Linked DNA regions of Homo sapiens: region 2 is linked to region 1. Evidence: fine-mapped expression QTL. A gene starts in region 1. The other region holds a variant in brackets. All regions are shown on one strand. Distances are from middle to middle.

Region 1 (5,371 bases):
GGGCATGGTGGCAGGTACCTGTAACCCCAGCTACTCAGGAGGCTGAGGCCTAAGAATTGCTTGAACCCGGGAGGTGGAGGTTGCAGTGAGCTGAGATCGCACCACTGCACTCCAGCCTGAGCGACAGACCCAGACTTCATCTCAAAAAAAAAAAAGAGAAAAATATCTGAGACTGTGTAATTTGTAAAGGAAAGAAGTTTAATTGGCTCATGGAAGGCAGGCTGTACAGGAAGCATGATGCTGGCATCTGCTCAGCTTCTGGGGAGGCCTCGGGAAACTTACAATCATGGCTGAAGACAAATTGCATCATATAGCCGGGGCAGGAGCAAAAGAGAGAGGGAGGAGGTGCCACATATTTTTCAATGACCAGATTTCTTAAGAACTCACTCATTACCACGGGGACAATACAAAGTGGATGGTACTAAACCATTCATAAGAAATCCACCCCCATGATCCAGTCACCTCCCACCAGTCCCCACCTCCAACATTGGGGATTACAATTCAACATGAGATTTGGGTGGGGACACAGATCCAAGTCATATGGATAACCAATCTCTCATTGTTGCTGCTGCCTCCTGCTCTGCTGGGCTTCCTTCTTCATACCCCTGCCTAGTCCCTCCATGTTAACATAGCAAGTCCAGGTGGCCCCCAGAGGACATCCCACAACAGGCTGCTTTGGTGCTCTTTAGCCAGACTCCAACAAGACAGCTTTGCATGCCTTCTCTTCACTGCTGTATTGTCTCGACAACACACACCTTCAACAAAGTACATTTAAAAATACATTGTCTTTTTGCTCCATGTAAAACCTCTGTGAGATAATTAAGGCATTACTAGCCATATTTTTTCTTTCAACAGATCATCAGTGATCTAGTTCAGGAGAAATGGAGTGACTGGCCCGAGGTCACAGATTATAGAAAGCAGGACCTGAGTGCATGGGTCTTTCCACTCCAGCAATATGTGATGCCTATGCCAAAATTACAGTACCTTTTTTTCTCCAGTAGAAATATGTTTCAAGCTTAATCAGTGTGTGGTCAACTAATTTCCAGCCTTTCCTTTTCCCGCTATATATATGCCAAACAGTGATGTGATAGAAAAACGAATAGTTGCAGAATTGAGACACTTAAAAACTTCAGTTACAGCTCTAATATATGAGACTTCAGTCAAGTTACTAGCTTTCCTCAACTATAAAAAGGAGATTAGGCAGGACTTGGTGGCTCACGCCTGTAATCCCAGCACTTTGAGAGGCCGAGGCGGGCGGATCACTTGAGGTCAGGAGTTCAAACAGCCTGGCCAACATGGTGAAACCCCGTCTCTATTAAAAATACAAAATTACCCGGGTGCGGTGGCGTGCGCCTGTAATCCCAGCTACTTGGGAGGCTGAGGCAGGAGGATCCCTCGAACCCGGGAGGTGGAAGTTGCAATGAGCCGAGATCACAGCACTGCACTGCACTCCAGCGCGGGCAACAAGAACGAAACTCCGTTTCAAAGAAAGAAAGGAAAGAAAGGAAAGGAAAGGAAAGGAAAGGGAGGGAGGGAAGGAAGGAAGGAAGGAAGGAAGGAAGGAAGGAAGGAAGGAAGGAAAGAAAGGAAAGAAAGAAAGAAATGGAGAATTAGATCAGCGACTCTTTGCCTGGGGGTGGGTGACAGAACAACACTTCTTCCTCCCCTAACAAAAATTACCTATGGAGCTGTGAGGGCTTTCCCCACTGATAGAAATGCCAGCAGAAATTCAGCTACAAATACTCAATCCAATAATCCTTAACATCACTTCCAATCCACAGTTATGATTCCAACGCAATCTTTTCTATACAGTATTTGTCAGCTGTTTTTATTCTTCAGTTTATCATCTTATATTTGGCTCTCAATTTCACCCATAAATTATTGATGGCTTATTATACGCCAAGTACCCTGCGCTCCGCTTTTTGTGGTATCCCTCTTCGGAGCGAGAAGTCACTTAGAATTTTACCCCATCTTCCCCACTTGGGAATCGGAAGGGTTCATAGCTAAGTTTTGTTATTTATAAGCACGCCGGCTCTTCTCTATCCCTCTCTCCACCAACCCCATTTCAAGGTTGGTCCCTCCCAGCGGACGACAGTGATGAATTCCTCTTGGGGACAGCCCTCCCGCAACTAACGGTGGCTCCATCGACGCTCTGGTCTCCTTGCTGCTCGCTGGGAATTCGGGTGGGACGTTTTCCAAAGTTTGGATTCCACGGCACATTCCTCCCTCGGAAAGGCACAACCGGCTCGGCGTGTCAGCTCAGCTGGACTCACGCCGGTGCGGGGCCGCAGCTCCGGTTCTCGCTGGGCGGCTGCGGAGGGCTGGGCGATTCTCTCAGCGTCGCGAGGCGACCCGGGCAGCAGCAAACTTCTCCGCTTCCCCTCTTCGGGACGCGGCACCTCTTCTGCCCTTGAGCACTCCGCAGGAACTTCCCCCGGCCTCGGCTCTCGCTCCGAAATAACCGAGCCAGCTCCTCGCACGCTCCCGCCGTCCTCCTCCGGCTGCGGCCGCGCGCCCGCCGCCACCGCCACCACCGCGCGTGTCCTCACGGGGCCTCAGCTCCCTCCGCCCCCGCAGCCGCCTGCGTGCCCTTCAACAGCTCCCTCCGCCCGGCCGTCGCGGAGAGGAGCGGGGAGCGCGCGCCGGCGCCAGAGACGTGCGCGAGACGCACGGCCCCGCGCCGAGCGCCGGAAGCAGCCGAGTCTGGGCCTCGCGCGTCGCGCGCGCCTCCTCCCCCTCCGCCAGCCGCCGCGGCCTCGCGCGCGCGCACTGAGGCGCCGCCGCCGCCGCGGCTGCTGCAGGAGGCGGCGCTGGCTGGCGGCTGCGCTCGCTCCAGTCGGCGAGCGGAGTAGCGAGCGAGCGTGTGTGTGTTTTTTAAAGATGGCCGGAGCGGCGGCGGCGGTGGCCGCGGGAGCAGCAGCTGGAGCCGCCGCGGCAGCCGTGTCGGTGGCGGCTCCCGGCCGGGCCTCGGCGCCTCCGCCGCCCCCGCCCGTGTACTGTGTGTGCCGGCAGCCGTACGACGTGAACCGCTTCATGATCGAGTGCGATATCTGCAAGGACTGGTTCCACGGCAGGTAAATAAACCCCCTCCAGCCCCGCAGCCGCCACCGCCGGCCACCGACCAACCGCCGCCGCCGCCGGCCGCCCGCGCCTCCCTCGGGCCGGGCCGCCGCGCCGCGCCCAGCTTTCAGGGGGCCCCGGTGCCTAGCCCCCCGGCCGGGCAGTGGGGCGCGCGGTGCCCCGGGTTCGCCGGGCGGGCTCCAGAGGGGAGCCGGTGGGCTCGCCTGGCCCGGGCGAAGAGTCGCCACAACAAACACGAACAAAGAGGGCCGGCGGATAAGTTGGCAGGGGGAGCCTGGGGCGAGGGGACGCGGCCGGGCGGGCGCGGCGGGGGCGTCGGGCGGAGCGCCGGCCGGGTCCGCAGCCCCTCGCCAGCCCGGGCCGCCGCCGCCCCGCCCCGCCCCGCCGCGCCCGGGGCTCCGGCCGGAGTCGCCGGCCGCCCCGCCGCTCTGCCCGGCCGGCCGACGCGCCTGCCTTCCTTCCGGGCGGCGATGGGGTCGCCCCGGCCCCGCGTCTCCTCCGCGCCGCGGGTCCCTGTCGCGCCCCCTTCCCCGTCTTTATCAAACTTCCTGGGCCAGTGGGACGGGGGCAGCGGCGGGCCGGAGAGGCGACCGCGCCAGCCAGCTCGGCGGGGCTCCGCGGAGTAAACAGAGCAACAGATGAGGCACTCGCTCTCGGGGACTTGAAAGGTGCCGGGGAAGTTGGGGCCGGGCCCCCGGCGGGCGGCAGGTTGACCCGGGTCGCGGTCCTGGGCCCCCGCACACACCCGGGTCGCCGGGACTGGGGCAGATGGAGTGGGTTGCGGCGGCCCGAAGGGAACGCTTCTCCGGACCCCCTGCGTTGCCCTCGCGCCGCGGCTTAAACTTTACAAAGAGTGCAGTTGCCATCGCTCGAAGCTGGCGACACCGGGACCGCCTGCGGCTGTGCCCGGGCGCCGGTGCCGGCGAACTTGAGTCGGCCGGGCGGACGCTGCGGGGCCGGCTGGCGGCGGCGGCGGACGCTGCCCTCTGATTCAGCCGCCGCCGCGCTCCGGGTTTGACGTTTGAGAGCTCGGGCCGCCTCCGCAGCCAGGCCGCCGACTCGTGTGTTTTGTAATCAAAGTGTGAGGCTAATAAAGGGCGGCGCCACAGCCTCTTGACTCCGGCGTGGGAGGGATTCACAGGCATTTAAACAAAGAAACTAGTTGGGGTTGGGCTCCCAAAGTCCTTATTTGGGTGTTGTGGCAAAGCCTGCGGTCACCTTTAGTTGAAGCCGGTTTCCCGGGCCCCGTTTGGTGTTGTCTCTTGGCGAGAGCACGCTCACGAGTAATAGCAGATATGGTGACTGTGATTGTAGGAAGTGTCTTTTGATTGACAGCAGGACATTTAAATACAGCCTCCGCTCCCCCCCTCCCCAATTTTACAGAAACACTACAAGACCAGGCCAGATGTCTTAGTCTCCCTCTACTGGTCCAGGGAGAGAAAACCATGTAAATCACAATGTTCTTTGCAGTGTTTAGTGCTAGGTGTAGTTAAGTTTTACTTAATTTTCAAGTACAGTTTTACTTAATCAGTTTTCAGGCTAGCCGATTCTCACAACAGAAAACAAGACACAGTAAATTATCACTTTAAAAGAAAGGCAGCGTCCTCGTTTCGTATAATCTTTAGCAGTCTTGTATATCCAATTCTATTTCCACATCCTGTTTCCATAACATATTCTACGCAACTAGAATAAAGATTATCCGAACATTTAGGTTCTATATAGAATAAAATCAGAATCCCTGGTGATTATGTAAATGCTTATTTTTTTTCAAAGAACTATTTTTTGAAATTTGAGGCGGTTTAAACTGCATAAAAATTTGTCTCGCCAGGCTTGGTGGCTCACGCCTGTAATCCCAGCACTTTGGGAGGCTGAGGCGGGTGGATCACGAGGTAAAGAGATCGAGACCATCCTGGCTAACATGGTGAAACCCCAACATGGTGAAACCCCGTCTCTACTAAAAATACAAAAATTAGCTGGGCGTGGTGGTGCATGTCTGTAACCCTAGCTACTTGGGAGGCTGAGGCAGGAGAATCTTTTGAACCCGGGAAGCGGAGGTTGCAGTGAGCCGAGATCGCGCCACTGCACTCCAGCCTGGCGACAGAGTGAGACTCCGTCTCAAAAAAAAAGAAAAAAGAAACTTGTCTCATTATGCAATGCGGATTTGATAGGCTACCAAATTTTAGACTAGAATTGTATTTATCTTAATTTAGGTCACTTAACACTATAACCATGAAAAGCCCCAGGTATTTGATGGAGAATTTTGTAATACATGTAAGTATACACTTGTAAA
Region 2 (5,371 bases), 49 kb before region 1:
TGATCTTGGCTCACTGCAACCTCCGCCTCCCGGGTTCAAGTGATTCTCCTGCCTCAGCCTCCTGAGTAGCTGGGATTACAGGCGCACGCCACCATGCCCGGCTAATTTTTATATTTTTAGTAGAGACGGGGTTTCACCATGTTAGTCAGGCTGGTCTCGAACTCCTGACCTCGTGATCCGTCCACCTCAGCCTCCCAAAGTGCTGGGATTACAGGCGTGAGCCATTGTGCCTGGCTTTTTTTTTTTTTTTTTTTTTTTTTTTTTGTATTTTTTAGTAGATACAGGGTTTCGCCGTGTTGGCCAGGCTGGTCTCTAACTCCTGACCTCAGGTGATCCCTACATCTTGGCCTCCCAAATTGCTGAGATTGCAGGCGTAAGCCACCGCGCCTGGCCTCTTGTCACTTTTTATTACAAATAAGAAGCTTAAACGTTCTCTATATTGCTGTGGCAAGTACTACAAGAGTCTTAGGCAGCAGATCGTGAAGAACTGTTTGAGAAATGTTTTAGGGTTTTGCTTTTCTCTGATTAGAACCATCTCCAAACGGTGTTGGAACTGGAGTTCCTGAGTAAGATGCTTTCAGACAAAATATACAATGTCTTTCTCTAGAGATCCACTCCTAGGCTTTTTGTTCCTTTCTTTCCCACTGTAGAACATTGCAAAAACAAGCTGCTGAGCCCTCAGCTGGGTGCTTGGGTGTCCCTGAGTTTAAAATGGAATGGAATATAGGTTTCTGTTTTTGCTTCCGTTGTTATGGCATGGGTAACGTAACTTGACTTTGTCTTTAAAAATTTCACAAAAGAAATCAACATTATTTACTAAATCACTTTTTAAACGTGTTTTAAAAGTGCTGCTTTTGGGTTGAAGGGTGTGCTCCCGAAGACCACGCTGAGTTAAGAGGCTAATAGGAATCGTGTGAGTGAGGCAGAGTGGGATGAGGGCCGTTCCAGAGACAGATGTGCCCTGGGAGACCAGGAGGAAAGCAGGCAGGTTGAGCTGTCCTGTTGGTTGTTAGCAGGACAGAACCAGGAGGATGCGGAAGCATTGGTAGCTGAGATGCACGGCACAGACCCAATGGGGTCCTCTCTCTTTCTTTTGTTTTTTGAGACAGAGTCTCACTCCGTCACCCAGGCTGGAGTGGAATAGCGTGATCTCGGCCACTGCAACGTCTGCCTGCCGGGTTCAAGCGATGCTGCTGCCTCAGCCTCCCAAGTAGCTGGGATTACAGGCACCTGCCACCATGCTGGTTAATTTTTTTTGTATTTTTAGTAGAGATGGGGTTTCACCATGTTGGCCAAGCTGGTCTCGAACTCCTGACCTCAGGTGATCCACCACCTCGGCCTCCCAAAGTGCTGGGATTACAGGTGTGAGCCACCATGGCTAGCTTTTTTTTTTTTTTTTTTTAATAGAGACAGGGTCTTCCTGTGTTGCCCAGGCTGGTCTTGAACTCCTGGGCTCAAGGGATCCTTCCGACTTGACCTCCCAAAGAGTTAGGATTACAGGTGTGAGCCACCACGCCCAGCCCAGCGGGGGCCTCTCTTTTGAGTCAAAGGCGGTTTGGAGGTCTAGCACAGCCCTGCTTTGCTCTGGACATGATTCAATGAAAGAAGATAAAAAGTAACACCTGGTAATAGTAAAATAGTAACAAATGGTATTTATTAAATACCTACTGTGTTCTAGGCACTGTGCTAGGAGATTCACATGCTTTATGTCATGTAAGCCTATGATGTGGGTTACTATTATTAGTCCCACTTTACAGGTAGGGAAACAGCCACAGGGAGGTTAAGTTGTCCATTACCCAACTAGGAAGTGGCCCCATGAGCAGAGGACTCAAGCTTCTAGTGTACTCAGCCACTGGAGGATGATCCTTTTGTGCTGAGATTCAGTTTACGAGTTCTATTATGGGGGAAGTTGGGGGCTTCCTGGTCTCAATCTATCTAAGGCCAGCTTGTCCAGCCCATGGGCTGTCTGCGGCCCAGGACAGCTTTGAATGTGGCCCAACACAAATTTGTTAACTTTCTTTAAATGTCATGAGACTTTTTTGTGTGATTTTATTTATTTATTTTAGTTCATCAGCTATTGTTAATATATTTTATGTGTGGTCCAAGACAATTCTTCTTTTTCCAGTATGGCCCAGGGAAGCCAAAAGATCGGACACCCCTGATCTAAGAAGAAGGAGGAAAGGACTGGCTGGATCAATGGGAGAGGGAGAAGAGATAAGGCTCAATTAGTGAGCAGGGATCTGTGCAAAGGAATCAGGACATAGGCACAGCAGCACCACAGGGTGACAGGTGTTAATGTGGGGGCTGAGGGGAGGGAGCAAGAGTACCTTTCAGTGGGTGTGTGTTCAGGGAGAAATGAAGAGAGTTGGGGCTGTTGCAGAGTTGAATTGGGAGCTCTGGGAGCAAGTGTACCAGTCAGTATTATAGGAAGGCAGCCATGTTAAGACACAGGACCTGCAGGGTGGCCAATTTGTTTTAAAGTATATGACAATAACACTCCACAGTTTTAACAGTTTGTTGGGCTAAATTGTGTTCCTCCTACTGCTACTGCCCCCCGCATTCATATGCTGAAGTCCTTACCCCCAGTACCTCAGAATGTGACCTTATTTGGAAATATGGTCATTGCACATGTAATTAGTTAAGATGAGTTCATACTGGAGTAGGGTGGTCCCTGATCCATTAGGCCAGGTGCAGTGGCTCCTGCCTATAATCCTAGAACTTTGGGAGGCTGGGGTAGGAGGATCGATTGGGCCTAGGAGTTTGAGACCAGCCTGGGCAACATAGTGAGACACTATCTCTACAGAGAATACAAAATTTTTAACAAACTAGCCAGGTGCAGTGTCATATGCCTGTGGCCCCAGCTTAACTCAGGAGGCTGAGGTAGGAGGATTGCTTGAGCCAGGGAGGTCAAGGCTACAGTGAGCTATGATTGCACCACTATACCCCAGCCTGGGTAACAGAATGAGACCCCATCTCAAAAATAAAAATAAAAACTAAAGAAGGAAATTTGGGCACAGATATGCACACAGGGAGAATGGCATGTGAAGATGAAGGCAGAGATCAGGGTGCTTCTTCTACAAGCCAAGGAACCCCATAGATTGCTGGCAACCACCAGCAGCTCAGGGAGATGCCTGGAACAGATTCTCACTCACAGCCCTCAGAGGGAACCCATCCTGCTGACATCCGGATCTCGGCCGTCCAGCCTCCAGAACTGTGAGA[C/G]AATGCTTTACTGTTGTTTAAGCTGCCTAGTCTGTAGTACTTTGTTACTTTGCTCTAGCAAAGTAATACACATGGCAACGTATCTGATGACAGCTCTAGCTGTGATAGAGCCCTGAGGTTTTTGAAACCTGCCTTTGTAGAGGCTGAGAAAATCTGTTTTCTTTCATTTTCCTTTTCTTTTTTTTTTTTTTTTGGTTTCTTTTTTTGAGACAGGGTCTTACTCTGTTGCAAAGACTGGAGTGCAGCAGCGTGATCATGACTTATTGCTGCCTCTACCTCCCAGGTTTCTCAGTAGCTGGGGCTGCAGACACACACCACCTGCCTGGCTAATTTTTTAAATTTTTTTTAGAGATGAGGTCTCACTATGTTGTCCAGGCTGGTCTTGAACTCTTGGGCTCAAGTTATCTGCCCACCTTGGTCTCCCAAATTGTTGGGATTACAGGTGTGAGCCACCATGCCTGGTCAGGACTTGTTTTATATAAAATTATCTCTAACAGAATGCTACATGTACATAGCTATAAAAAGCAAAGTAGAATAAATACATAAAAAGTATAATGAAAAATTACAATTGCGCTTAGCCTCTTGTTCCCCAAGGCTGTCTTCCTGAAGGCCGGCACTGCCAACTCTGTAGCCATTTTTCTTGTATTTTCCACCATTTTTCTAAACAATATGCTTACATTACTATTTCTTTTCTTTCCTTTTTTTTTTTTTTTTTTTTTGAGATGGAGTCTCACTCTGTTGCCCAGACTGGAGTACAGTGGGGTGACCTCAGCTCACTGCAGCCTCTGCCTCCCAGGTTCAAGCAATTCTCCTGCCTCAGCCTCCCAAGTAGCTGGGATCACAAGTGTGCGCCACTATACTTAGCTAATTTTTGTATTTTTAGTAGAGATGGGGTTCCACCATGTTGGCCAGGCTGGTCTCGAACTCCTGACCTCAGGTGATCTGCTTGCCTCAGCCTCCCAAAGTGCTGGAATTACAGGTGTGCTGGAATTACAGGTGTGAGCCACCACGTCCAGCCACATTACTGTTTCTTGATTTTCGACTTTGCACACTACTTGTTAACTTCCAATCATGGTAGCGGAGGAAACGCTCTCCTTCCTATACCCCCTTCTGTATCCTTGTATTCCAGTACTTTATGAAATAAATGACAACTGTTCACATTATTAGGAGGAGGTATGTAGTGTTAGGAGGGGGCATGGCTCACCTCTGAGCCATGTAGTGTTCTAGGACAACACTCTGTGATTAAACAACCCTTTTCTCCTTCTGGACTTAATGGCAGTTTCTTTTTTGCATTTGTCTGATTTTCTCTGAACCTATGTGTTCCCCCATTGCCCTAGCACCTCTGCCACACTGCAATCAACAGTATTTTTTGACTCTGAATGCTTTATTTTTTTTTCCCTAGGTGGTCCCTCTGGCCTCCTCCTCCAACGTGGACAGAGGTGCCTTAGGCTGCAGCGTGGCCCAGCTCCTGAGAGGGAGGAGGAGGTGTCTTTTGAAAGTGGCCAGCAGTTTTCTGGGTTTGGAGGTGGATGTTTCAGTTCACTGTGGGGGTGAAGTCCTTTGGTTTCATGAAGGCCTCCGGGACAGGCAGCTGTGCTCTCTTGTTGTTCCCCTCTGAGGGGCTTCACAGTTCTGGCTTGGGCGTGTTAATCAGGCATTCAGGCTGAGGCAGTCCTGAGTCCAGGGGAGATGTTGTCTGAAGGTGTGAACGGCTGAGCTCACTCCTGTGGAAACTGATGTTTTTGTCAGTGGTTGTTTTTTTGGCAGGGTGTGGGAGTTGTTGCTGAAAGTTGCTTGCAGGAGATAACGGAGTGGCTGAGGGTGGAAGGTGCATTTTCTCCATCCGTGCACAGAATCAGCACTGCTGGGTCACGCAGGGTGTAGGGATCTAGAGCACCAACGGAGCCCCGGACCTGGAGCCTGGCAGCCCCATGGGCACTGTGTCTTAGAGGTAGTGGCCCCAAGGCTCGTATTGGTGGACCTCAAGCCACAGAAGACAGGCCAGAGGAAGGATACAATGATGACTGGGACTGATTGGTTCAACAGATGTCGGGGACCCTTTTGAGGACTCCCTGAAAGACCCAGGGAATACTTCTGCAGGGCTGGGGCTGAGGGCCTGCGCTCATCAGGGGCCTCAGAATCGTTGTGACAT

Evidence for each region. PIP is the estimated chance that this variant, and not a neighbour inherited with it, causes the effect. A credible set is the group of variants that fine-mapping cannot tell apart.
Region 2: its variant is the best candidate, but not a certain one, in a credible set for the expression of KDM7A in whole blood (TOPMed, PIP 0.64).

The regions. Positions count from the first base shown.
Region 1 is chr7:140,174,447-140,179,817 of GRCh38, reverse strand. KDM7A (lysine demethylase 7A) reads left to right here and starts at 2,835. Exons shown (of 20, transcript NM_030647.2): 1 at 2,835-3,074. The coding sequence starts at 2,881. It overlaps KDM7A-DT (KDM7A divergent transcript), which reads right to left and starts at 2,557. Exons shown (of 1, transcript NR_024451.1): 1 at 178-2,557. RefSeq lists silencers at 2,427-2,856, 2,897-2,996, 3,637-3,816, 3,827-4,106 and an enhancer at 2,279-3,202.
Region 2 is chr7:140,223,604-140,228,974 of GRCh38, reverse strand. No RefSeq gene overlaps it. Among named protein-coding and RNA genes, the nearest start is that of KDM7A-DT, 49 kb to the right of the region's middle. The variant C/G (reference allele first, on the strand shown) is at 3,220.